Regions from separate parts of the Homo sapiens genome. Here regions 2 and 3 are each linked to region 1. The links come from fine-mapping of genetic effects on gene expression. A gene starts in region 1. Each other region holds a variant in brackets. All regions are shown on one strand. Distances are from middle to middle.

Region 1 (8,269 bases):
GGCCTCTGGCATAAGCACAGGGCTGGGGGGCAGAGGAGGAGGGTGGCAGGCCCCTTCCCCAGTACCTTGGCTGGTGAGGAGGCCGCCGGGCTCCGGGTCCAGAAGCTCTGGCCGGCTGTTGTTCTGAGCCATCTGCCGGTCTGCTGGTTTCACTGCTGGTTGACAAAGAGGGCAGTGTTCAGGACGAGGAGTGTGCCTGATGAGGCCTCGCCCCTCCCAAGCACCAAGTTCTTTTTCTCAGAAGCACTTCTGGAGATTAAGCAGGGGCAAAGAGCAGGGCCCTAGATATACCTCTGGAATCTGGAGTGAGGTCATTGAGCTGAAGGTTGGACGGGAGGGACATGTTCTCCCGTGGCAGGCGCACGTTGTTGAGTTTTAGGTTGTTGGAGTCACTACAGGGAGGACAAAGTTCGGGATGGATATGAGTCCCGGCACAGGCACTCATGGCTGCCTCTACCAGAAACCCCAGGCTCCCTCCTGTCCCCATCCTGCATTTCGGTTAGGCTTGTCCACCCAGCCCAAGGAAGAGTTACCTTGATATCAGAGATGGGTGCCGGGAGGGGCCTGTGGAGAAAGAAACCATGTCCCTAATTCTCAGTGTGCCCTCCCACGCTGGGCTGTCCTACCCTTTCAGACCCAGGACCCTCAGGCAAGGGGTCTCTCAAATGCCCAGGCCTGGCCCTGGGGCCAGAGACTGGGTTCCCAGTGCTTGACCCTGCTACCTGGGATGCATGTCACCGTACCCATGGCCACCCCCTGGAAGTGCTCTGCCACCGTCAGAGATGACTGGTTCTGCCCAGCTGCACTTGCTGTCTTGGCTGCTGCTCAGCCTGACCTCATCCACACTGCCCCCAGTGTCCCTGGCCTACCTTTGGTTTTCTTCTCTTTTCTGCAGACCAGGCAGGCCACCAAGGTGCTGAACCCCACGAGGGTGCCCAGTGCAAGCCCAGCAGCCACAACAATGCCCAGCAGTGGCACTTCCACCCGGGTAGCCAGAAGCCCTGGAGGATGTCCTCTGTGTCAGGTCCCAAGTGGGTAGTGCCCCAGCCCCAACATGCCATAGGTACTACTCTGCCCTCCTTGCCCAGGGTGGCTGGGGACAGTTCATCCACAAGACCCAACCACAGGGCAACAAGTATTCCCATTTCTGTATGGGGACGGGACCCCTGAGCCCACCTGAAGCTTTGCAGGGCCGCTTGCTGGCCATGCTCACCTGGGGCTGGAAGCGACGCACTGGTGACACCCACGTCATTGGTGGCCACCACCGAGAGGTTGTGTGCCAGGCTGCGGAGCTGCAGCTGCACCGTGTGGTTGGTGAGCCAGGGGTAGTTCTGCGCATCCAGCACCAGGAAGTCAGAGGTGTTGACAGTCACTGGCCCATCCTGGTCGATCCAGGTGACATTGGCCGGCGGGTTGGCACGCACCAGGGCAAACAGGACAACCAGGAGGCCTGGGCCCTGAGCTTCCTGGTACTTGGCGCCGACTTGGGCAATCTCTGGCTTGACTGGTACAAAGCAGAGGCCAATATGCTCTCACCACAGCCCCTCATACTTCTAGCCCTTTCTTCCCAAACCCAGATGGGAGCCAGGGGCCTGGGCCTCTCCTCAGAGGGGATGCTGAGGAACAGGATGGCTGGGTCTGCCAGAGAGGCAGCATTTCGGAGTGATTATGAGTGTAAATACTAGAGCCAAATGCCCAGATGTGAATCCTGGCTCTGCTTCTTACCAGCGGGATCATCACCCTGGGCAGATTGCTTACCTCTTTCTGCCTCAGTTTTCTTATTTGTAAAATGGTGACGACAATAGTAATGACCTCATGGGGTTACTCAGAGGATCAAATGAGTTCATATTTGCAAAGTGCTTAAGTGTCTGCTAAATGTCCTGCGGACCACCTGCCTGGTGGGTGCTGGGGGTCCCTGGGCAAAGAACCTATCTCCCTGCCCACCTCAGGGCCACTCACATTGCACATTAAGGATGACAGAGGCGTTGGCTGATCGGCCACTTCTGGGGTCCTGCAGAGAGCAGTTGAGCTCATGCTGGGCCCGATGGGCAGTGACAGTGAAGGTGCTGGTGCCTCCAGAGAAGGCCTCCCCTCCCACGCTCAGCAGTCTTGAGGTGCTGGCCTCCTGCAGCTGTCCATCCAGATACCAGGCCAATCTGGGGGTGCCAGGCCCCCCTGCCACCCGGCAGGTGAAGGCGTGGCGTTCATTCTCCCGAAGTGCCCGCTCAGCCCAGGTCTGACCATCTATTTGTGGCTCCAACTCCCCCCAACCTGGAACACAGCAGGAGGCCTCTGGGAAGGGCTCAGGCACGGTTGGTACTGTGCTGTGACCAGGAATTGGCCCAGTGAGAAGAGCAGCAGGCCAAAGGAAAGGGCACCTGAGTCCTCTCACCAGGGACTGGCTGGTTGGACCTAGGGTAGGTGGGTGAAGGGGACAGGGACTCCAGGGCTTGGGGCCTGGAGTGGGTACCCAAACAGAAGTGCAGACAGGGGAGAGAGGGGGCTTTGGAACCCAGAAGGACTTGGTCAACGACTGAACAGGGGTGTACCTGAGCTCAGAAGGGCTGGCAGGAGCAGCAGTGTGTGCCGGAGGGCGGCTGGGCCTGGAGGCAGCGCCATGGTGGCCCGGGCCTAGGCCCTAGGCTGCTGAGAGAAGGGGGCGGGCCTGTCAGCCAGGTGACAGCAGGCAGGCCTAGCAATTGCTCCAGGAATTTACTCTCCAGAAACAAAAAGAACCATGTACGGAAACGCAAATGTAGACCAGCCCCCAGTGGCGAAGGCACGGACACGAACGGCAAAGCCCAAAGGCACAGACCCACCCAGCAGACACATGGACATCCTGCAGGCGCAGAAGCGAGCACTGACTCCAGGCTACAATACAAAGAGGCACACACCCGCAGATACGCAGAAGCAACGAGCATCCGTGCAACCACACCTTGCACACACGCACACTCACACACATACTCCACGCGCCCCTCCCCCAAAGGGATCGCCTTTCTCCTAATCCTATTCTCTCTCCTGCCCTGTTCCCATCCTCTCTCCTGCCCTGTTCTCTCTCCCATCCCTCGCCCTACGCCCCCTTTCCTGATGTTGGTGGCTCCGGTGGATGTCGGCGGAAGAGGAGAGGGTCGGAGGGTGGGGTCGCCGAGCATCCCGCCCCCGCCCCCCGCCACCGGGGCGGCTCACCTGGCTCCCTCCCCGAGCGCCGCCGGAGCAACTGCTCAGGTCTGATGAGCACCGCAGTCCGCTGCAGGGGCGGGGGCTGCGCCAGGCGGGGCCAATCGATGCCCGACCACGGGCCCGAGGGGCCCTTACCCGGCAGGTGGGCGGCCGCGGCTCACCACCCCCCGGCTGGTCCCCAGCCCGCGCCGAGTACCCCCGAGTGCCCTTCTCTCCGGGCGCGGGCAGGACGCAGGAGCAGGCGGAGTCGGTGAGGCCCGACGGCTTTATTGGTTCAGGGCCCAGTCCCGTCCCCTCGCCCGCGGACGCCCGGGTCCGCGGCGCTCAGCGGCTGTCACGGGGGCGGCGCAGCTGCCCCATCATGTCGGCCAGCATGCGGTTGCACAGCGCGGCGTAGGGGTTGAGCAGCACCAGCTGGCGCCGCGCGAAGGGGCTGCCCAGCCGTGCCGCCCTCTCGAAGTCCCTGCGGGCGTCGTCGTCTCGGCCCTGCAGCCGCGCCAGGAGTCCGCGCTGCACAAAGCTCTGGCGGGCGGCGCGGCCCCGGCCGCCGCTCAGCTCCACCGCGCGTTCCAGATCCTCCAGGGCGCCTGCGGGACCGACGAGACGGGCGGGGCGGGGGTCAGCGGAGGCCAGGGCGGCCTTGCCCGAGCCCCAGCCCACCTGCGGCCGCGCGGATCACCGTGGTTCTTGCGGCTCCCGGGCGTGGCCATTTACAACCCGCCTCGCACCTGCTAGAGGTACGGATCGTTATTCCCATTACACAGATGAAGACTGTGGAAGAGTTAAGCTCTACAGCCAAGCCACTTAGTGGCAGAGCTGGGACTGAAGTCCAGGTCTCGCCTTGTTCCTATTATTTTCCACCGCTAATACACGAAAACATGAACGTTGCAGGATTCTGAATGGCCACTATGTTTATGAGTCTGGCCCACTGCCCGGGCAAGTAGCAGCCAATTTATTCCACACCTGTTATTAAGCATCCACTATGTGCCAGGTGACTGACTCTGAATGTCAGGGTTCAAAAAATAATATTAACCGCACAATCATTTCTTACAAGTACAATCAAGACAGTTTCTCATTGTTTTCCTTTTGAGGGCCGTTTTCTCTTTTCCATTGCTTTCTTTAGAACACCTTCTCTCTCCCCTGTATCCTGGACTGATTGCCTTTCATCATTCTTTGGTTATCTCCATGTATCTAATTTCCTTGGTCCTGGAGCCAGAGCTGGCCTGCACCATTTTTATTGTTATTATTCTCATAAAATACTTGGGTTGGGCCTCAGAACTCTGAACTCAGAACTTCAGGCAGCCAGCCACCTTCTTAAAGTCCACCAGGCTGGCTTCTTTCGGGCTCTGCTTCAATTCACTCATGTTCTCTAGTCCCCCAAAGAGCCTGAGCCTCCGGAGAAGCGCTCAGAATGCAGTACTCCTTGGTTTCCCTCGGAGGAGCTGGTCTGGAGGAATCTCCAGTTGGAATCACCACTGCATCTCTCTGGGGTTTTGGTCTGCAGGCTGTCTCCAGTGATCTGGGGCAGATAAGCCTGGATAAGGGGCTCCTGGGAGGTTCCCATTGTTCCTGGAGTGGACTCAAAACTCCCTAGCCTGGCATTGCTGGTTCTGGGAGCACCTGTGTCACCACTGCTCCTAACAGTCAAGTAGTACTAGGTTTCCGTGGTTTATACCTTCACATTAGCCTCATCTTTGGTCCCCAGCATGGTCCCATTGTCTTCACTTAATTAGAATAACCTGAATGCAGCAGGAGTTTTGGACCTCTACAGACTGTACCTTCTCCACCCACCAACTAACTCCCACTCATCCTTCAAAACTCGCCCTTCAGGAACAGGTCCCACGCTGACCCCTCTCGAACTTGTTTTGCTGGTCTCAGAATTATGTGTCTGCCCTGCCTCCTGGACTGGGAGCTTTTCGAGGAGCAGTATCATGTGGGGATTAAGAGCACACACTCGAGCCCTACCACCTGGTTGACATCCCAGCTCTGCTGCTGCCTGACTGTATGATAGTGGGCAAGTTACTTAGCCTCTTCATGCTTCAGTTTCTTCATCTATAAACTGGGGATAACAATAGTACATACTTTTTAGGGTTGTTGTGAGGATTGATTTACTAGTTTGTATGTAAAGTGATTAATGCCTGGTACATAGTGACTGCTATATAAATGTTGGTGATCCATATACCTTTTATCTCAGTGTCCTCAGCACCAGCCTACTGCCACATAGTAGGCTCTCATTAACTGTTCCTTAATCAATGGAATGCAGTCTCTTCTGAATTTCACATTAACCCCATGATATTAGCAGGTCCCCTGATACTACTCCTACCTTATAGGTAAGAAGACAGGCTCCACAGGGGTTTAGCAAGGCCACCCCAGCCGCACAGCCACTTCAGTTCTGGTCTGTGCCCTCCCGTGGGCCCTTTTGCAGAGGATACAGGGCATCTCCCCTTACCTGCCACGTCTCCCTGGAGTCGCCGGGCCTGGGCACGGTTGTTGTAGGCTGAAGCCCTCTCAGGCAGCAGGCAGATGGCTTGGCCAAACCTCTCCAGGGCTGTGCTGAGGTCCCCAGCCTCTGCTGCCATCACCCCCTGCAGCTCCAGGGCCTTGGACTGTTCCAGCTGTGCTTGAGGGAAAACTTCATCTGGGCCAGGGAAGGAGCCAGGAGAAGCCAGGTGTGCAGTTGGTAGCAAGAAGAAAAAGCCACCTCAGGCTTTGGAATTCTGAGATCTGAGCCAGAGCTGACTGGGTATGGGTCACAGCAGGGGTCAGTTGCAGTGTTTGGGGTAGGGGGAGATGAGGTCACTAAGGCTGGGAGCTAGCATTGCCTGAGTTCCAAGAGACCTGGGAAGGGGCCTTGGTTGGTTCCCCATTGCCAAGAGAATGAAGCCCAGACTCCTCAATCTGTTAAAGAAGTTGCTCAAGTTCTTTGTGTATGGCCTCAACAGGCCATACGTTGCAGAGCTTGGATTTGAACCCAGGTCATTCTGGCTCCTGTCTGCATTTTACTCTACTACACCGCCTCTTATGCAAAGGCCACCATGACATTCCCAGATCATGAACATCACTTCTGACGTATCCCTCTGTGTTTCGGCCTGAGTTAGTAAGGTGTAGGCTTTACTCCTCTAGAAACAAAGGATCAAAAACTCCTTCATTAGGGATTAATGGAAAAGCCAGTGAACGCACTCACTGCGGAAGAGTTAGTTTGGAGCTTGGCTTGTGACAGTGTTTAACGGTTACTGGTTGTGCTTGCTATATTGGAACCACTCAACTGAGCAACCATGCCCTGCCTTATTTCAGTCTTCTGTTCTGGTGGTGGTATTCTCTGTTATGACAAAAATGTGAGAGTTTAACATCACCTGGCAGTTAAGCTTGGATCATACAGTCAATTAAGTGGTAAGTTCAGAGGCATGAGAGCTGATGGATCGAGAGACAAACCCCAGCTTACTCCTCTTGGCAGGACATCTCTTACCAAACCCCCATCAGTGCGCTAAGGAGCAGCCAACCTCTCTGATTCCAATCTCAATCATAATCATGGAACAAGGGGCCTTATAAAACCACCTCCCTCTCTGCTACCTCGGGAGGCCAGCAGGCCAGCCTATGTGCAGAGCTACACTCCAGATCAAATGCCCACCTTCTTCTCGTTCTTCCTTTTCTGCTTCCTCTCCGAGGTCCAATCCAACAATGTCTCCAAATGGGGTGTCAGGGTTGAAGATGGCCTGCAGCACTGCCTGATCATTTGGAGTCCCCATGGTGCTCAACTCCAAAATCCCAAAAGGTGACTCCAGATGAGAGAAGAGGGAGGGACGTGGTGAGGGTGGAGCCTCCAGCAGGAAGTTGATCTGAAAGGATGAGGACCACCCCTTCGTGAGGAGTGTCTCCCTGTCCATGGCTGTAGCATTTGCTCAACCTGTGGCCTGGAGGGTTGACCCTGGCTTGGCAGACTACTTGGTTATTTCTCAACTGCCCCTGCCCCCAGGAGAAACAGTAAACAAATCCAGCTTCAGCCTTAAGGTGGAGTGCAGCTAGAGAAGGTGTTCTCCAGCTTCTCCCTGAAATGCTTTCAGTTTATTATATTCACAGTTGAGAAAACCGATAAAAATCAATACTTAACCTCCTTGGATGAAACAGGGGAGCTATGTAGAAGGTAAAGGCCCTGTTCCTTTGTCCTCTTGACCCTGCCTCATATCCACAATTAATTAGGTCCTGAACATACATCACTGATGAATAAAGGAAGAAAATAGTCAAGAGAGCCAGTGTGGAGTGGACCTGAAGGTGGGCTACAGGGAATAATTTAGTGATGCCACCTTAAAGTAAAGGACTGTGGAAGGTACTTTGTGACCAGGTCACAGGCCATGCCCCTCCCGCTTTTCTCCACCCTCTCCAACCAAAGCCAAAAGGAAGCTTAACCATGTGCAGCAATAAACTTGACATGTTTATTAATTAAACTATCACTTAAATAAAAAAAAGTGCATAGAAAATAAACATGTTTAAAAACTCCTTTTTTTTACAACTATGTACACTTTTTACTTTTACATTCAGTCTTTCGTAGAGAGCTTTCAGCATTATTATTTTTTGAACTATTAAAGTATTTTCCTTCATCCCTGTCACAGGGAGTTAACACTGATGGACTTTAGACACATTTTCCTTTTTTTTTTTTCTCTTTTTCTCTAACCAGAAGCTTGGAAGAACACAAGGAAAAAAAACAGATCTGTTATACATGATAAAGTTGTCAAAAAATGTCTTATTTCTAGAAAAGAAGCTTGTCATCTGTTGAGCTCTTGAAACAATTATTCAACTACCTGTATTTACTAAAGAGACTGTTAAAAGTTCAATAAAAGAAACACCACAATTCTATTTTCTTGGTTGAAAGACAGAACTAGAGTACCTCGGAACAAGATACCAGGAAAGCACAGAACACAATTTTCCCCTAAATGCAGGTGGTAACCCCAACATTCATAACCAAAAATAGAGAAACAAGGAGGACAGGTACTGACTGGCAACATTCATGGGCAGAAAAAAATCCAGGTGACACCATGTCTGCATTTTTCTCTGATCCGAGGAATGGACTGTTCTACCATTCCTTTATGGTTAG
Region 2 (8,269 bases), 140 kb after region 1:
CAAAACAGCATCCCCTCTGGCTTGACAGATTTCAATCTCAGGTACCCAAGATTTAAGTAGATAGTGCAGATATCTGATACAAGCTGCTGGGGTTTGAAGTCAAATTCGCTGAAGTCCTTGACTTTTAAGGCACCCATCTTGGGGCCAACCAGGTGTTGCAGGAAGTAGTTCAACATGGAGATGATGCGCTCAGCCAGGAAGGGATGCACAAAGAGTGACTTGATCTCTGGAAAAGAATCCAAAGTCTCTGAAAACTCAATCCATTAGCACTCTTTTCCTTATTAGGTATAGTTTATTTGGAGACCTCTGGGAACTACTGTTATTTTATTTCTAAACATTTTGAAGGAACTACTTTTTTAAAAAACTAAGTAATTCATTTTCACTGCAGAAAATATAGACAAGCAAAAAACCAAAACCAAACAAAAAACAGAAAAGACAAAAACTACCATCCAGAGATAAACACTGTTAACATCTTGCTAATTTAACATTTTGTCCTTCTAGCTTTTCTGTCCTTATTTACACACACACAGACATTTTTTAAACAAAAATGATCATATTTTACATATTCTGAAACTTACTGTTTTCAGTAACTATATTGCAAATACTTTATCATTTTAGTAAGTGTATGTCCCTGTGCTATCCAACATAGTAGCCACTGGCCATATGTGGCTATTAAAATAAAAAATAAAAAATCCATTCCTCAGTCACACTAGCCACATGTGGCTAGTTAAGTATGGTTCTGGACAGCCCAGATTTATAGGACATTTTCACCATCACAGAAAGTTCTATAGAATAGGGGTGATTCACATAATCTTTTTAAAAAATGAGATGGGGTCTCACTATATTGCCCAGGCTGGTCTCAAACTCCTGGGCTCAAAGTGATCCTCCTGCCTCGGCTTCCAAAGGGTTAGAGGATTACAGGCGTGAGCCACTGTGCCCAGCTGTTTTACATCATTTTTTAAAAAAATTATTTTTTATTTTTTTGAGACAGGGTCTTGCTGGTGCCTAGGCTGCAGTGCAGTGGCACGATCATGGTTCAAGGCAGTCTCAACTTCCTGGGCTCAAGTGATCCTCCTGCCTTGGCCTCCCAAAGTGCTGAGATTACAGGTGTGAGCCACTGTACCCAGTCTGTTTTACATCATTTTTAATGGCTGACTTTTCCAGTTGTAACTGCACCATAAGTTATTTATTTAATGTCTTTACTGGTGGACATTTTTACTATTTTCAGTTTTTTCCTACACTTATCAATGAACTTCATTGTGGATACATCTTGTAGACTCATCGCTTCTTTTTTTTTTTTTTGAGATAGAGTCTCATTCTGTTGCCTAGGCTGGAGCGCAGTGGCGTGATCTCTGCTCACTGCAACCTCCGCCTCCTAAGTTCAAGTGATTCTCCTACCTCAGTCTCTCAAGCAGCTGGGACTACAGGCACATGCCACCACACCTGGCTAATTTCTGTAATTTTAGTATAGACGGGGTTTCACTATGTTGGCCAGGCTGGTCTCGAACTCCTGACCTTGTGATCTGCTTGCCTCGACCTCCCAAAGTGCTGGGATTACAGGCGTGAGCCACCGTGCCTGGCCTATCGCTTCTTCTTAACAAATCTGTAAGGAACTGCTATGTTATAGGGCATGAATTCCAAAAATTAAAAAAAATTTATACATGCCAAATTTAACAAGTCAGACAGTATCATAATGCTATGTTTGGTTGGTACTGATAGTTCTTGATTTTTCAGTTTTAGTCATTATCACAGATGCCCTCAATATATAGTCAAATTTTTGCTTAAATAATTTAGTTTGTTATTAAGATTATGTAAATATTATTCACAGCAGAGCCATGTGCTGTCCTAATGAGTATATAGTTCCTTTTTAGTATAACTTTTTGCTTATTTGCTTATTTTCAGAGCCTCTTATCACTAAATCCTTTCCAAACTCTCCATTGGAATTTAAAACTCTCAACATGGTCATTTCCAGCTGCTGATTAATTTTTGGAAACATTCTTTCTGGATGTTTCCATCCTTTGCTCCAACCTGGACTGCTTGCTCTACAGGCCTGCTATGTAGTGGCCACACAAGCTCCTTTCACCGTCATCCTGGGAATCTCCTTTGCGTCTCCCTTGTGTTGAATTCCACCTTCCTCCTCCTAGGTTTACTTTCCCTCAGAAATGTGTCTCAGCTTCAAATGACACTGTTGGAAGTGCAAAGCCATTTTGATACTTAAACTATGGTAACATTACCTGACTTCTCTGGGCTATTTTAGGGTCTTGTTTTTACCATGATTTCCTAAAATTTCACAATGTCATACCTCACTGTGGGTTTTAAAAAATTCTCTGTGCAGGGGCCTTGGCAAGCCCTTTCAATTTAGAGGCTGTCTTTGAGTCTTGGGGATTTTTTGGTATCTTTGATAACTTCCTCCCCTCCATTTTTCGCTTTTGAGACTTCCTAGATCCATCCTTTTGTTTTCTTATCCTTTCTCTTCTAATTTCCATCTTTTTCCTTCTGTTCTACGTTCATAGAAGAGTTCCTTGAATTTATATCTTCTAACTCCTTTACTGAATATTTAACATTTCCGAGGTAAAAATTTCAATATCCAAGGGCTCTTTCTTATTCTTCAAATAATCTCTTTCATTGCCTCTTTGTTCTTGTTTTGTGGCTGCTGTATCTTCTCTTATCCCTCTGAGATTAAAAAGTTTTTTTAAAAAGTTTTTACAAAGTTTTCACCTATTTGTTTTTCACATTAGAGGATTTCCTCAAATGTCTGGTGATTACTGATTGTCATATCACATTTAGCTGAGACATTAAAAATGATAATTTCAGTATGTAATCAGTATAAAAATGGACAGATTTCACATTTTAACACTAAGTCTTGTACTTATAGCACATCTCAATTCAGACCAGCTACATTTTAAATCCTTGAAAGCCACACGTTGCAAGTGGCTACTGAATTGGACAGTGGAGCTATAGAAGGAGTAGAGATAAATTTCTGTTAGATCCACCATATTTAACCAGGATTCAAGCGTATTTCTCAGATTAACAAACATATATGTATATATGTGTGTGTACAGACACACATATATTTATATGGCTAACTTGTCCTCAAGAAAGATTTTACCACCTTATGCTCTCTGGCAGCTGTGTGAGGGTGACCATTTCCTCACTTCCATGTCAACAATGGGCATCATCATTCTTTTTGAAGCTTCTCAAGTGATTCGTTTCCCTTCCAGATGTGGAGGATACTGTCACCAGGGTCTGAATTCTTAGTTTCAGCTGGGCTGATCCCCCAAGTGAAGCTGATCTTGGCCATTACTTTTTTGGGGGGAAGCAGTACTTCATGTCCTTACCTGATGTGAGAAAGGCAAGGGTACC[G/A]ATTGTTTCATTGGACATGATGTTATGGAAACGTGCCAGCTGTCCAAACATCTGTAGGCCAGCCTCCTTTTCTCGGCGGGCTTCTGGAGTCAGACTATCCCATTCACCTCGATCCTTCTCAATTTGCTGAATCTTTATCTTGCTCAAATACTGCAGAAACCAGAGATGGGATATATCAGAGAAGAAAGGTGCAGTTGAAGGGACGTGACATTTAAGAGGTCCTATTCAAAATCCAGTCAACTAAGCTGGGAAAACGAGGGACCATGTAAAAGACATGAGCCTTTATTTCTCAGCATAAGGCTGAAGCTCAAAAGAACTTTCAGGAAAAAAAGAAATTGTGGCTTCATACAGATTTGTTTCAGCTTGGGTAGATTCACAGGTAATTCCCCTAGAAATAGTATAGCATTGTGAAATGCAAAGAAGGATGAATAGTTTAATATATGAAACCCAGGCCAAGAAACAAAAAACTAAAAAACCCCACACTATAGTGAAAAAACAATGAATCCTTCCTGAAAGATGAAAACAAATCCCCCCTGCCAAATTGCTTACAAAAAAATCAAAGCTCTATCACATATGCAAGATGCGTGGAAGAACCATAATTATTTAAAACTCTCTACCTCACGTCATCCTTCCTGTTGTAGCAAACAACTTGTTAAACTTACAGTCTCATGAAAATACCATCTGCTTCATGCTTTGTGTCACACACCTCTTGCTTAAAAGGGCCTGTTTGTAACAGGACCTATTCTCGCTTTTGAAGAAAACCTATCTTAAATCCTAAAGCGTAGGATTATGAAGAAATCAGATCAAACCTTTCTCACAAATTAAACACAAGCTACTCAGGGGATTGCTGATCATAAGGAGGAGCTCATGACTGTCTAAAGGCTACCCTCAGGATTTACCTGCTTCATCTCCCTTTAGGTCAGTGCCTTGTCCATCCTATACCCATCACAGGTAAGGGAAGTTTTGCTCTACAGACAGCCAAGTTTTTATGGGAGAAGTAAGCAGTTCCACCAGGGAAGGTTAAGGAAATAATACACTGAAGGAGCTGAGAGGCACCCAGCTGCATTTTATACTTTGTGAAACCTTTGTTTCACCATATAGCTAAGAATTTAGAAGGCAGTGGAAATATGAGAAGTATTGACAACTTGGAGCCTTTATATGAAAAAATAACCCAAATCAGAGATTTTCTTTCAAGTAGTGGTGCAAAAATCAGAATCTTTTAGGAAAGTGGGTTAAAAATCACTGTCTTAGTGAGATATTTTACTGACATGTTGGGATTAAAAGGGTTGAAAGTCACTGACCAAAAGCAAGCTCCTCTGATTTCTTTCTGTAGTGCTGGCCTGATGAATTACTCCTGCCAGTACAACTTAGTTTGGCTTCACCATATGGTATTTTTGACTCTGCCAAAATGTCCATCTCATGATGCTTCAATGACCCTTGATCTTGGTCTCTAATGGAATGAACTAGAAAGCTCTATAATGACAAGCTTGGTGGTACACTACTAATCACAAATTTTTGGTGTTCAAGTCTGGTACTAGGGGCATAAGGACTGCTCTATTATGATTAAAAGGTAAAATGTATGTACTGCTGATGATTTGATGGTATGGAGAAGTTAAATCTTTTTTTTTTTTTTTTTTTTTACCTGTATGGCTTCATCCAAAAGGAAGATGGCATCATTCATTAGCAGGTTAAGAAAGCGGAGGAAAAGTGGGGGATTCATGGCTTCTAAATTCTTAGAGGCATAGTCAGCCAAATCCTGTAAGTCCCAGCCCACAAGAAAACCATTTTAGTACTGAATTACAACTCATTAGGGCTTATATAAAGCAACAGGTTTCATCAAAAACTCTCTCACCTTAATGCTCTCCCGATAGGTATCTGTCCCCCACATGTATCTTAGGATAGGATACATGGGACGGCGGTAATTAAACTTCTGTTCAAATTGATGGGGGTCTCCTGGAGTAAGGCAAGAGCGAAATATCAGCAAAGGCGGTGCCATAAGAGGAAGAGTTTATGCTTATGTGTAGCCATTTGCTTTGTAGTCATTTGCTTTTGAGTGTGTTAAGGCTACTAACAAAATCTGCCCTGGAGTTTCTAAAGGCCTAGAGTTATCGCCAAGTGTTTGCTCATTTCCTTACTGATGAAGTAAGGGGGAGACAGAGATAAAGGATACCTTACTCTGCAAGAGACAAGTACCAAGCTGTAAAATAAAAGTTAAGGGAAACAAATGTTTCCATATCCAAACATGAGTACTTCTCAGGCTTTAAATGAGGGCTCAGGGCTGGCCATTATGGCAGTGAAAGCCATGTGCAGGACGGGACACTAAGCAATTCCCACATTCTTCACAGACAATATCCCAAACTGTGTAGCCAACAGGTTCTTGATTACTCTGAAAAATCAGGTCAGGAGCTAAAAATCTGAGGCTTATACTGCTTTTGAAATACCAAAGGTATTACTAGAGCTCCACAGGCTGGGTCATAATAAAGGAAGAGTGTAGGATTTGGAGTCAAAAGACCTACGTTTTCATTCTGGCTCTGCTTAATCTAAGTCTCTTAATCTTCTTCAGCTTCCACTTCCTCAGAAATAAAACAGAAATTGTACTCCATTACAACACTTTGGTTGTATGGTCACATAACGAGATAACTGCAATGATTTATTATACAATTTCTTATGTATTATAAAGATTTACATGCATTATTTCACTTAATCATCACTTTGACCCATTTTATAGATGAGGAAACTAAGGTTGATAGGTGAGCGAATTAAAAAAAACCAGAATCCAAATATGGAAAGGCGGCCAGTAAAATGTTAAATGCCTCTTTAAATGTTAGTTGTATTTATCATTGGATGGTAGATATCCCTTTAAAAAATGGTCTTCAACAACTTCTTAACATATCTTATTTACTGATTGAGACAGGGTACTGTTTAAACAAACACAGGGGCTCAGGGTTAGATAGAGAGGGAATGTTGCCTGCTGGTTTTTTTTTTTTTTTTTTTTTTTTGAGAGGGATTTCTTGCTCTGTCATCCAGGCTGGAGTGGTGCGATCTCAGCTCACTGCCACCTCTGCCTCCCGAATTCAAGCAATTCTCGTGCCTCTGCCTCCTAAGTAGCTGGGATTACAGGCACCTGCCACCATGCCTGGGTAATTTTTGTATTTTTGTAGAGAATGGGTTTCACCATGTTGGCCAGGCTGGTCTCAAACTCAGGAGCTCAAGTGATCTGCCTACTTTGGCCTCCCAAAACGCTGGGATTACAAGCATGAGCCACTGTGCCTGTCCGCCTGCTGGTATTTTTAATCGAACCATTAGACTGTTGGAGAGTTAGATAGTCTGGTTAAGATAAAAGAATCTCTCAACCAATACACTGCCTCTTTATGCACTATTCTGTAATTTTAAGGCAGAGAAATATAAAGACCCAAATAGTCTAATTTGAGTCTGATTTGATGATGCAACATAATAAGGGTGTTGAATATGTAGATTTCTTTAGGTGACACAGACCTGATTCTACCACTTGGTAGTTTGTTATGACATGGACAAACTGATCTTTTGGGCAGTCATGTCTTCATATGTAAAACAAGAATAATTAAAAAATAAAAAATAAATAAAACAGGGATAATAGAGTGAAACTTTTCCAATGGTGACAATGGGATAATGTTAAAAAAAAAAAAAAAGCACTTATCATCAAGCCTGGCATATAGTAGGTATTCAATAAGTAATGGCTTGACATTTCTTTGATATCCAAATACGGATCAAACTATGAAACTCCACTGGTATCAGCTTCCCAGTTCTGGGCTCAGCTTCATGACTGCTTTACCTGTAAATTCGATGTCCACAAAAACCTTGATTAGAGCCTCTGCAAGTTGGGGTGCATACTGAAAGTTGCAGAACACACGTTTCCGGTGGAACACACTGGATACCAAGGGATTTGGGGTCTGATCCAGGTGGGGCATCACTGCTTCCAACACCTCTGCTAGTTTGGCCCTCAGGTGGGGATTCTTCATTCTGCAAAATGGGCAAAAAGCAAGATGAGCAGATAAGCTTAACTCCAAATTTATGACTCTGTTCTCTCCACATAAGAATCAAAATCCACCCTAAACCATATTACAGGAAAAAAAAGGATCCACTTCTGCAGTTTTAAGTTTGTCAGTTTCTTGGTGCGGCTGGGCGGGGGGTGGGGTGGTGATGCAGGGTACATCATTTAACTCTTGAGTTGACAGCTTACCAAATATGACGGTGAGCACTTAAGTTTCTATTGAATGCTTAGCCATTGTTTACTTCTCTGTAATAATGCATTATTTACTGCTTCCTATTCTCTGACAGTTTCATGTGGAATAAACTTGCCTTTTCAAGCTTTCTGAGGGTAAAGACTAGAATATAATTATGCTACATTACCCATGACGCATACAGTGTATGCATAATACTTGTTGACTTATGACTTCTCATTAGGTATGCTCAGCTCAGTGAAGAAATGGCTTCTCTCTACTTATCACTGATACGGCTCAGGGAATTGTGGGTCATTCTCTTCATTGTGCAGCAAATCTTCACTTTTGTACACAGAGTTTCCACTTCCTTTAGCCTATGCATCAAAAAAATCAGGGAAGCAATTCTACAAGTCACAGTATCTTCCTTTGGAAAAGAGGACTAGAAGCTATGAGTGAGAAAACTTGAAATGAGAAATAACATTGACTTAAGTTTACTGCTCATCCAACTCAGAATAGCAAGAATAAGCTTTATTATCATATAATTATTAGAAGATCATTAGCACCTGGCTGCCACTGTTAAGTTTCTGGCATTAGGTTAACTACTTTAACCAGGGACTGGCAGTGGACTTCCCATAAGATACTTATATGCAGGATTAAATTCTCTGTGGACAAAGTCCTTTGTTTATTATACCTCTCAACAGTGGGAT
Region 3 (8,000 bases), 38 kb before region 1:
GGCGGGGGGGGGGGCGGGGCCTGTGGGCTGGGGAAATTGAGGGTACCCCGCTCCGGTTACGATTAAGCCCAGGAGGTGTAGGGGGCGTTCACCCTCCAGCTGTGGAACCTCGTATCTCTCCCCTTTCACTGTCATCGCCTTCATTTATTTTGCGTCACATCTTACAGTTTAACAAGCCGCTGGCACAGCCACTATTATTTAATATACAGGATAACCTGTGTGCCTAAAAGACCAGTATCCGGAATATATAAAGAACTTTTTTTTTTTTTTTTTGAGATGGAGTCTCACTCTGTCGCCCAGGCTGGAGTGCAATGGCGTGATCTCGGCTCACTGCAACCTCCACTTCCCAGGTTCAAGCGATTCTTCTGCCTCAGCCTCCGGAGTAGCTGGGATTACAGGCACGCGCCACACCACGCTCGGCTGTTTTTTGTATTTTTAGTTGAGACGGGGTTTCACCATGTCGGCCAGGCTAGCCTCAAACTTCTGACCCCAAGTGATCCGCCCGCCTCAGCCTCCCAATGTTGGGATTACAGGCGTCAGCCACCGCGCCTGGCCTAAGAACTCTTATAACTCAGCAATAAAAAGACAAATACAGTATTCCTGTCTAAAAATGGGCTTCATCTGCAAAATGGAGGGAGTAGAAAACACAAAATTAAAATGAGCAAAAGATTTGAATAGATATGTGTCCAAAGAAGATATATAAATGGCTAATATGCACATTAAGAAATGTTGAATATCCTTAGGGAAATGGAAATCAGACCCGTGGTGAGACGTCATTTCACACTCACTAGGATGGCTATCATAATAATTGTTGGTGAGGATGAATGTAAAATAGTGCAGCCACGTTGGAAAAGAGTTTGGCAGTTCCTCAAAAAGTTAAACAAAATTACCACATGACTGAGCAATTCCACTCATAGGTACATACCCAGGAGAACTGAATATATGTCAACACAAAAATGTGTACTCTAATGTTCATAGCAGCATTATTCATAGTAGCCAAAAAGTGGAGACAATCCAAACAAATCCATTCATCAATAGATGTGGCATATATATGCAATGGAATATTATTTAGTCACAAAAAGGAATAAAGTACTGACATGCTACAATATGGATGAACCTTGAGAATATTATGTGAAAAAAGACGGATACAATGGGGCACTCATATATGATTCCATTAATACGAAAGATCCAGAATAGAAGAAAATCCACAGAGACAGAAACTAGCTTAGTGATTTCCAGGGGCTCAGGAAGGGTAGGAATAGAGAGTGACAGTTAATTAGTGTAAGATTTATTTCTGGAATAATTAAAACATTCTGGAATTAAGCCAGGCATGGTGGCATGATCCTAGAGTCCCAGCTACTTGGGAGGCTGAGTTGGGAGGATGGCTTGAGACCAGGGGTTAAAGGTCAGCCTGTGCAAATTGTGAGACTTAGACTCTTAAAAAAAAAATAGTTCTGGAACTAGATAGAGGCAAATATACTAAAAACCACTAAATTGTATAATTTTAAAAGGTGAATTTTTATGATTTGTAAATTATATCTTTAAAAAAACATGCACTGGAAGCAGGGCAGTTGTGCTCATGTCCATTTTGTATATGAAGAAAATGGTGAAAAGTTTAAGTGACTTACCCAAAGTTTCTAAACCAGTATATGATGGAACCAAGACTCAAAATCTGTTCTTGTGATTCTCATGTTATTTCTTGTATGCCAAATTTCAGATTTTTCAGAGTATAGCTGATTCAGTAGTTCTTCCTTAAATCATTTTATCCTACATCCTTAGCTCAACCGAACAGCACTCATCCATATTAAACCTGTATGTCCACAATTAAGTATAATAGCAACTTTTAATTGAGTGCTTCATTTGTGTCAGGTACTTTACACATGTTATTTCCAATCTTTTACATCAATCCAAATAAAGATACTGAGGATCAAAAAAGTTAAGCATTTGTCCAAACTCACACAACTAGTAAGTGGTAGAGCCAAGTTCAAAGTCAGTTTTCTCCTGGCTGGGCGCGGTGGCTCACGCCTGTAATCCCAGCACTTTGGGAGGCTGAGGTGGGCGGATCACAAGGTCAAGAGATCGAGACCATCCTGGCCAACATGGTGAAACCCCATCTCTACTAAGAGTACAAAAAAAAAAAAATTAGCTGGGCATGGTGGCGCGTGCCTGTAGTCTCAGCTGTTCGGGAGGCTGAGGTGGGGGAATCCTTGAAGCTAGGAGGCGGAGGTTGGGTTGCAGTGAGCCGAGATCATGCCACTGCACTCCAGCGTGGCGACAGAGGGAGACTCCGTCTCAAAAAAAAAAAAAAAAAAAAAAAGCTGGGCGTGGTGTCTCATGCCTGTACTCCCAGCTATCTGGGAAGCTGAGGCATGAGAATTGGTTGAACCTGGGAGGCGGAGGTTGCAGTGAGTTGAGATCACAACACTGCCCTCCAGACTGGGCAACAGAGTAACACTCAGTCTCAAAACAAACAAACAAAAAAACAAAGTCAGCTTTTTCCATTAAAACACACTGCCTCTGTATCTCCTGTGTGTTCCCTAACATTTATTGAACACTTACAGCATACCAGCCATTACTCTAACTTCACACAGATTATCTCATTTAATCCTCACAAGAATCCTCTGAGATAGGTACCTTTATTGTCTCCATTTTACACATGAGGAAATCAAGGTACAGAGAAGAAAACTATCCCACCACAGGTCTCATGGCTAAAAAGTAGGTAAGCGAGGATTCAAACAAAGGCTGTTCAACTTTGGACTATACCCTTAAGCACTGCATTATAGACTTCTTGCTCTTACCCGTATCAATTCCATCTCCAATGGCCTTCTAATAGAAATCTTTAGAAAGCTCAAATATTTTTAAATTTTATATGTCTGGGAGGATATATGTCAAACTGTATTTTAAAGTTTTTTTTCATTAAAAAAACTTTTTTAGAGAGATGGGGGTCTTGCTATGTTGCCCAGGCTGGTCTCGAACTCCTGACCTCAAGCAGTACTCCCATCTTGTCCCCCCAAAGTTCTGGGATTGCAGGAATGAGCCACTGAGCCCAGTCAATATTTTAAAAAAAAAAATTTTTTTTTTTTGAGAAGGAGTTTCGCTTTTGTTGCCCGGGCTGGAGTGCAATGGTATGATCTCAGCTCACTGCAACCTCTGCCTCCTGGGTTGGAGGGATTCTCCTGACTTAGCCTCCCAAGTAGCTGGGATTACAGGCATGGACGACCACGCCTGGCTAGTTTTTTGTATTTTTAGTAGAGATGGGGTTTCACCATGGCCAGGCTGGTCTTGAACTCCTAACCTCAAGTGATCTGCCTGCCTCAGCCTCCCAGAGTGCTGGGATTACAGGCGTGAGCCACAGCTCCCGGCCTATTTTTAAATTTTCTAATTGACACATAATACTTGTACCCACTGGCCAGGTGCGGTGGCTTACGCCTGTAATCCCAGCATTTTGGGAGGCCGAGGTGGGCGGATCACTTGAGGTCAGGAATTCCAGACCAGCCTGAGCAACATGGTGAAACCCCATCTCTACTAAAAATACAAAAATTAGCTGGGCGTGGTGGCCCATGCCTATAGTCCCAGCTACTCGGTGGGAGAATCGCTTGAACCCCGAGGCAGAGATAGCAGTGAGCTGAGGTCTCGTCACTGTATTCCAGCCTGGGCGACAGAGTGAGACCCTGTCTCAAAAAAAGAAAAAAAAAGTGACAATGGGTACAAACTTTCTTTAGGGGATGATGAAATGTCCTAAAAAAGATAACAACTGTACACATTTATGGGGTAACTTTTTATTTATTTATTTATTATTTATTTATTTATTTTGAGACAGTCTCACTCTGTCGCCCAGGCTAGAATGCAGTGGTGCCATCTTAACTCACTGCAACCTCCGCCTCCCGGGTTCAAG[C/T]GATTCTCCTGTCTCAGCCTCCTGAGTAGCTAGGATTACAGGCATGCACCACCACACCTGGCTAATTTTTGTATTTTTAGTAGAGATGGGGGTTTCACCATGTTGGGACAGGCTGGTCTTGAACTCTTGACCTCTGGTGATCCACCTGCCTCGGCCTCCCAAAGTCCTAGGATTACAGGCGTGAGCCACTTCACCTGGCCCAATTTTAATTTTTGTTACAAAAAGCAGACATATTTTAAGAAACATGGAACAAATTCTTATTTTTTTAGAAAAGTAAAAATCCTGTTAGAAACTATTGCCTTATTGTAGCACCTTCCAGGGCTTCCAACTTGGATCTCAGAAGCTCAGCAAAGACCAGTTGATGCTGCTTCTTCGGAAATATAACGGTAGCTGAATTAAACCACAGAAGAAAAAGCAACCCTGTAAGCATGCTTCTTGAGGAGTCCCATAGTGGCAGTATCTTATAATGGTTAAAAGCAGAGACTTAGGAATCAGACTGACCTGTGTTTGGCTGCTATTTTCAGCGCTTATTATGAGTGACTTTAGGCAAGTTACTTTAACTGTCTAAGCCTCAATTACTTAATCTGTAGATTGGCAGTAACATCTATCTCATAAGGTTGTGAAGTAAATTAGATGATATAATCTAAGTGCTCCCCACAAAAAAACTAAGTGCTCCTACATAGTAAGTACTGCACATTACATATCCACTATTACGAGCAAAACAGATCACAAATTTTTTTTTAAATGCAGTTCTATTTTTAACTATCAGTATGCCAGAAAAGCTGTCTCTCATTTTTTAAAGGCACTTTCCTTGTTTACCTCTGGTAGGTTTTCAGGGTCAAATTTCCAATATTATTTTCTTTTTAAAATGTATTGCTATTATTATTATTTTGAGACGGAGTCTCGCCCTGTCGCCCAGGCTGGAGTGCAGTGGTGCGATCTCGGCTCACCACAACCTCCACCTCCCGGGTTCAAGCAATTCTCCTGCCGCAGCCTCCTGAGTGGCTGGGATTACAGGCGCGCGCCACCATGCCTAGCTAATTTTTGTATTTTTAGTAGAGACGGGGGTTTCACCATGTTGGTCAGGCTGGTCTTGAACTCCTGACCTTGTGATCCACCCACCTTGGCCTCCCAAAGTGCTGGGATTACAGGCGTGAGCCACCGTGCCCGACCAAAAAATTATTATTGTTATTATTCATTATTTATATTTGAGATGGGGTCTTGATCTGTTGCCCAGGCTGGAGTGAATGCAGTGGCCCAATCTCGGTTCACTGCAACCTCTGCCTCCCTGGCTCAAGCAATCCCCCCGCCTCAGCCTCCCGAGTGGCTAGCACTATAGGTGCGTGCCACCACACCTGGCTAATTAAAAAAAATTTTTTTTTTATTTTTAATAGAGTGGAGGGGGGCGGTTCTTGCTATGTTGCTCTAGCTGGTCTCAAACTCCTGAACTCAAGCAATCGTCCCACCTCTACCTCCTGAAGTGCTGGGATTACAGGTGTGAGCCACCGCACCTGGCCTCCAATATTTTATGTTTCTCTCTCCCTGACTTCCCAAATTAATTATGTCCACAGTTTGAAAATATTTGTTCCTTACATCTCCATTCACTCATTCCTCGATTCATCCACCCAATGAGCATTGTTAGTGTCTAATTTCTGCAATACACTGGTGTTACAAAGCTTAAAAATTAATTAGACACAGGTCTTGCTTTAAATAAGTTAAAAGTCTACTTTAGCAAATAAGAAAGACAGGACACAGAGTGAAAAAAAATTTTTTTTGAGACGGAGTCTCGCTTTGTTGCCCAGGCTGGAGTGCAGTGGTGCGATCTCGGCTCCCTGCAAGCTCCGCCTCCTGGGTTCATGCCATTCTCCTGCCTCAGCCTCTCGAGTAGCTGGGACTACAGGCGTCCGCCACCACGCCCGGCTAATTTTTTGAATTTTTTAGTAGAGACGGGGTTTCACCGTGTTAGCCAGGATGGTCTCGATCTCCTGACCTCGTGATCCGCCCGCCTTGGCCTCCCAAAGTGCTGGGATTACAGGCGTGAGCCACCGCGCCCGGCCCACAGAGTTAAATTTGAACCTCAGATACCCAAGGAATAATTTATTGCTATAAGTATGTTCCATTCCATGGCACCCTGTGGAGGGGAAAGACTATAGTGTAATATAGTGCTAGAAAAGGACTTACAGAGTGCTGCGAAATTTCCCCTGGAATGTGTCTACATCCTGGTAAGACTGATCTGGGAGCAACTGCATCCCCAGAGATTGTTGTCCTAGGGGAACAAACGCACACCTTGTTTCCAGATTGAAGGGCTAACTCTACACCAGCCCGAAATTTATCAGCCGCGTTGCCACCCATAGCCGCTAGATGCCGCAACAGACGTATTTACTGAAACCATAGACAAACAGGCGACTTGGCCGCCCAGAGAGGCTTTATCCGTGACTCCTTGATCTTCTTCCTGCGTGGAGAGCCTTCGCGGGTGAGGCTTAACGCGCAGGAGGTCTCACGAGAGTGGAAGCAACTCTCGCGAATTTTAAAATTTATCTTTTTGCCTAGCGACTGACAACAGGCTGGTTGCTTGGCGTGGAATCCTAAAGTGGCCTGGCTTTGAGACTGGAGTGAGACCCCAGCCCTAGGCTGGGGTTCTTTCCATTATAGAGGAGACGGATTCAGAAGGGCTACAGGTAATTAGTACTCATCCCAGCAAAAAGGGAACTGTCTTTCTAGAGAGGCTTAAGAGGACTCCCCTTTACCCCATTCCCGGTTACCTCTTCCAATCTCCGTGGTAACTGTTCCTTCGTCACCTCACCACCAACCGTCCTGCTTCCTTTATTCCCCCAAGAAACTTAGGTGGGATCCTATCTGCAAGATAAGGGTGAAAGTGGAGGTGATGATTTTGGGATTATCGGATGGGACTGAGAGACTGGAGTTTCCCCTCTCTTCGGGGACCCTCCCACCCTACCCCGCCTCAGCCCACCCCACCCCACCCCACCCCACCCCACCCCACCCCACCCCAGAGGTGACTCCAGAGACAGAACTCTTTCTAGAACCTCTACAGCCTTCCCTGAGAAACCTCAACAGCCTTGGCCATCTACATACAAATAGTGTTCTGCCCTTGCGCGTGGTCGTACAGCTTTGGGAAGCTGCAGAAGTTGGCTCTCTTTCCCTCCACGATTCCCTGGTTCCTCAGCCAGCCTGCCAGCAGTTCCTAAATAAGGGCTGCAACAGAATGACTTAACTGCTTGACCGAGGGCCAGGAAGCCTGAAGGAAAGTTTGGATGGGGTGATGGTTTTGTGAAAAACTGGTTTCTTGAGTAAGGAAGAGGAGCCAATGCTGGTTTGGAATATACCTCCTGGCAGAGTGCTTTATGTCTCATGATAGGAGCTATGAATTATGTCTCCCTTTGCTTAGACCAAGGTTGTTGAAAACCAGACATATGATGAGCGTCTAGAGATTAACGACTCCGAAGAGGTTGCAAGTATTTATACTCCAACCCCAAGACACCAAGGTAAGAGAGGAAAGAAGAGAAATGCTACTGAAAGAGCAGGATGGATTCACGGTTGTCTTCAAGAAGTTCTTATTTTATAATAGCAAATGTTGACTTTCAGCGTCAATTTACTTCACTTGCCATTGTTTGTTTTCTGACTAGTTAAGGGGGAGAAATCATAGCCTTCCAAATTACAGGATCTTCCCCCAATCCAACCCTGTCACCATTTACTTCATGTTACTGCTTTGCTCACTGTCTGCCAGGAATTCACTGTTCTTTTTCTTTTTCTTTTCTTTTTTTTTAACTTATGTTTTTCCTAGCTTTGAAGATGCTTCATAACCTCCCCTTAGCCTGCAACCCCAACCAAAATCACAGTGGAATGTTTTTAAAGGACTGAACACTATTTATTTATTCAACAAACTTTTTTTTCTTAATTTTATAGAGACGAGGCCTCGCTATGTTACCAAGGCTGATCTTGAACTCCTAGCCTCAAGCAGTCCTTCCGCTTTGGCCTCCCAAAGTGCTGGGATTATAGGTGTGAGCCATCGTGTCTGGCCAACAAGCATTTTAAAATGCCTACTGTGTGCCAGCCTTATGCCTGGCACTTGGGTAAATAGTGTTAA

What was found.
Region 2: its variant is fine-mapped to the expression of TMEM25 in whole blood (INTERVAL, PIP 0.94).
Region 3: its variant is fine-mapped to the expression of TMEM25 in caudate (GTEx, PIP 0.98).

What each region holds. Positions count from the first base shown.
Region 1 is chr11:118,526,152-118,534,420 of GRCh38, reverse strand. TMEM25 (transmembrane protein 25) reads right to left here and starts at 3,229. Exons shown (of 9, transcript NM_032780.4): 1 at 3,187-3,229; 2 at 2,550-2,646; 3 at 1,960-2,271; 4 at 1,214-1,504; 5 at 870-1,001; 6 at 534-564; 7 at 292-392; 8 at 66-155. The coding sequence starts at 2,619. KMT2A (lysine methyltransferase 2A) reads right to left here. Exons shown (of 36, transcript NM_001197104.2): 36 at 7,589-8,269. It overlaps TTC36 (tetratricopeptide repeat domain 36), which reads right to left and starts at 6,947. Exons shown (of 3, transcript NM_001080441.4): 1 at 6,809-6,947; 2 at 5,630-5,818; 3 at 3,428-3,767. The coding sequence starts at 6,926. The coding sequence ends at 3,505. It overlaps TTC36-AS1 (TTC36 and KMT2A antisense RNA 1), which reads left to right and starts at 3,646. Exons shown (of 3, transcript NR_120574.1): 1 at 3,646-3,917. RefSeq lists silencers at 2,982-3,081, 3,112-3,551, 3,672-3,951, 4,473-4,767.
Region 2 is chr11:118,381,682-118,389,950 of GRCh38, reverse strand. It overlaps UBE4A (ubiquitination factor E4A), which reads right to left. Exons shown (of 20, transcript NM_001204077.2): 13 at 7,175-7,362; 14 at 5,216-5,316; 15 at 5,006-5,119; 16 at 3,339-3,513; 17 at 46-226. All of the region lies in intron 3 of LOC100131626 (a long non-coding RNA gene), which reads left to right. Among named protein-coding and RNA genes, the nearest start is that of ATP5MG, 16 kb to the left of the region's middle. The variant G/A (reference allele first, on the strand shown) is at 3,364.
Region 3 is chr11:118,564,363-118,572,362 of GRCh38, reverse strand. It overlaps IFT46 (intraflagellar transport 46), which reads left to right and starts at 6,432. Exons shown (of 12, transcript NM_001168618.2): 1 at 6,432-6,573; 2 at 7,302-7,398. LOC124902764 (a long non-coding RNA gene) reads right to left here and starts at 7,302. Exons shown (of 4, transcript XR_007062907.1): 1 at 6,989-7,302; 2 at 6,658-6,751; 3 at 6,077-6,161; 4 at 3,764-4,285. RefSeq lists enhancers at 163-292, 6,160-6,389. The variant C/T (reference allele first, on the strand shown) is at 3,896.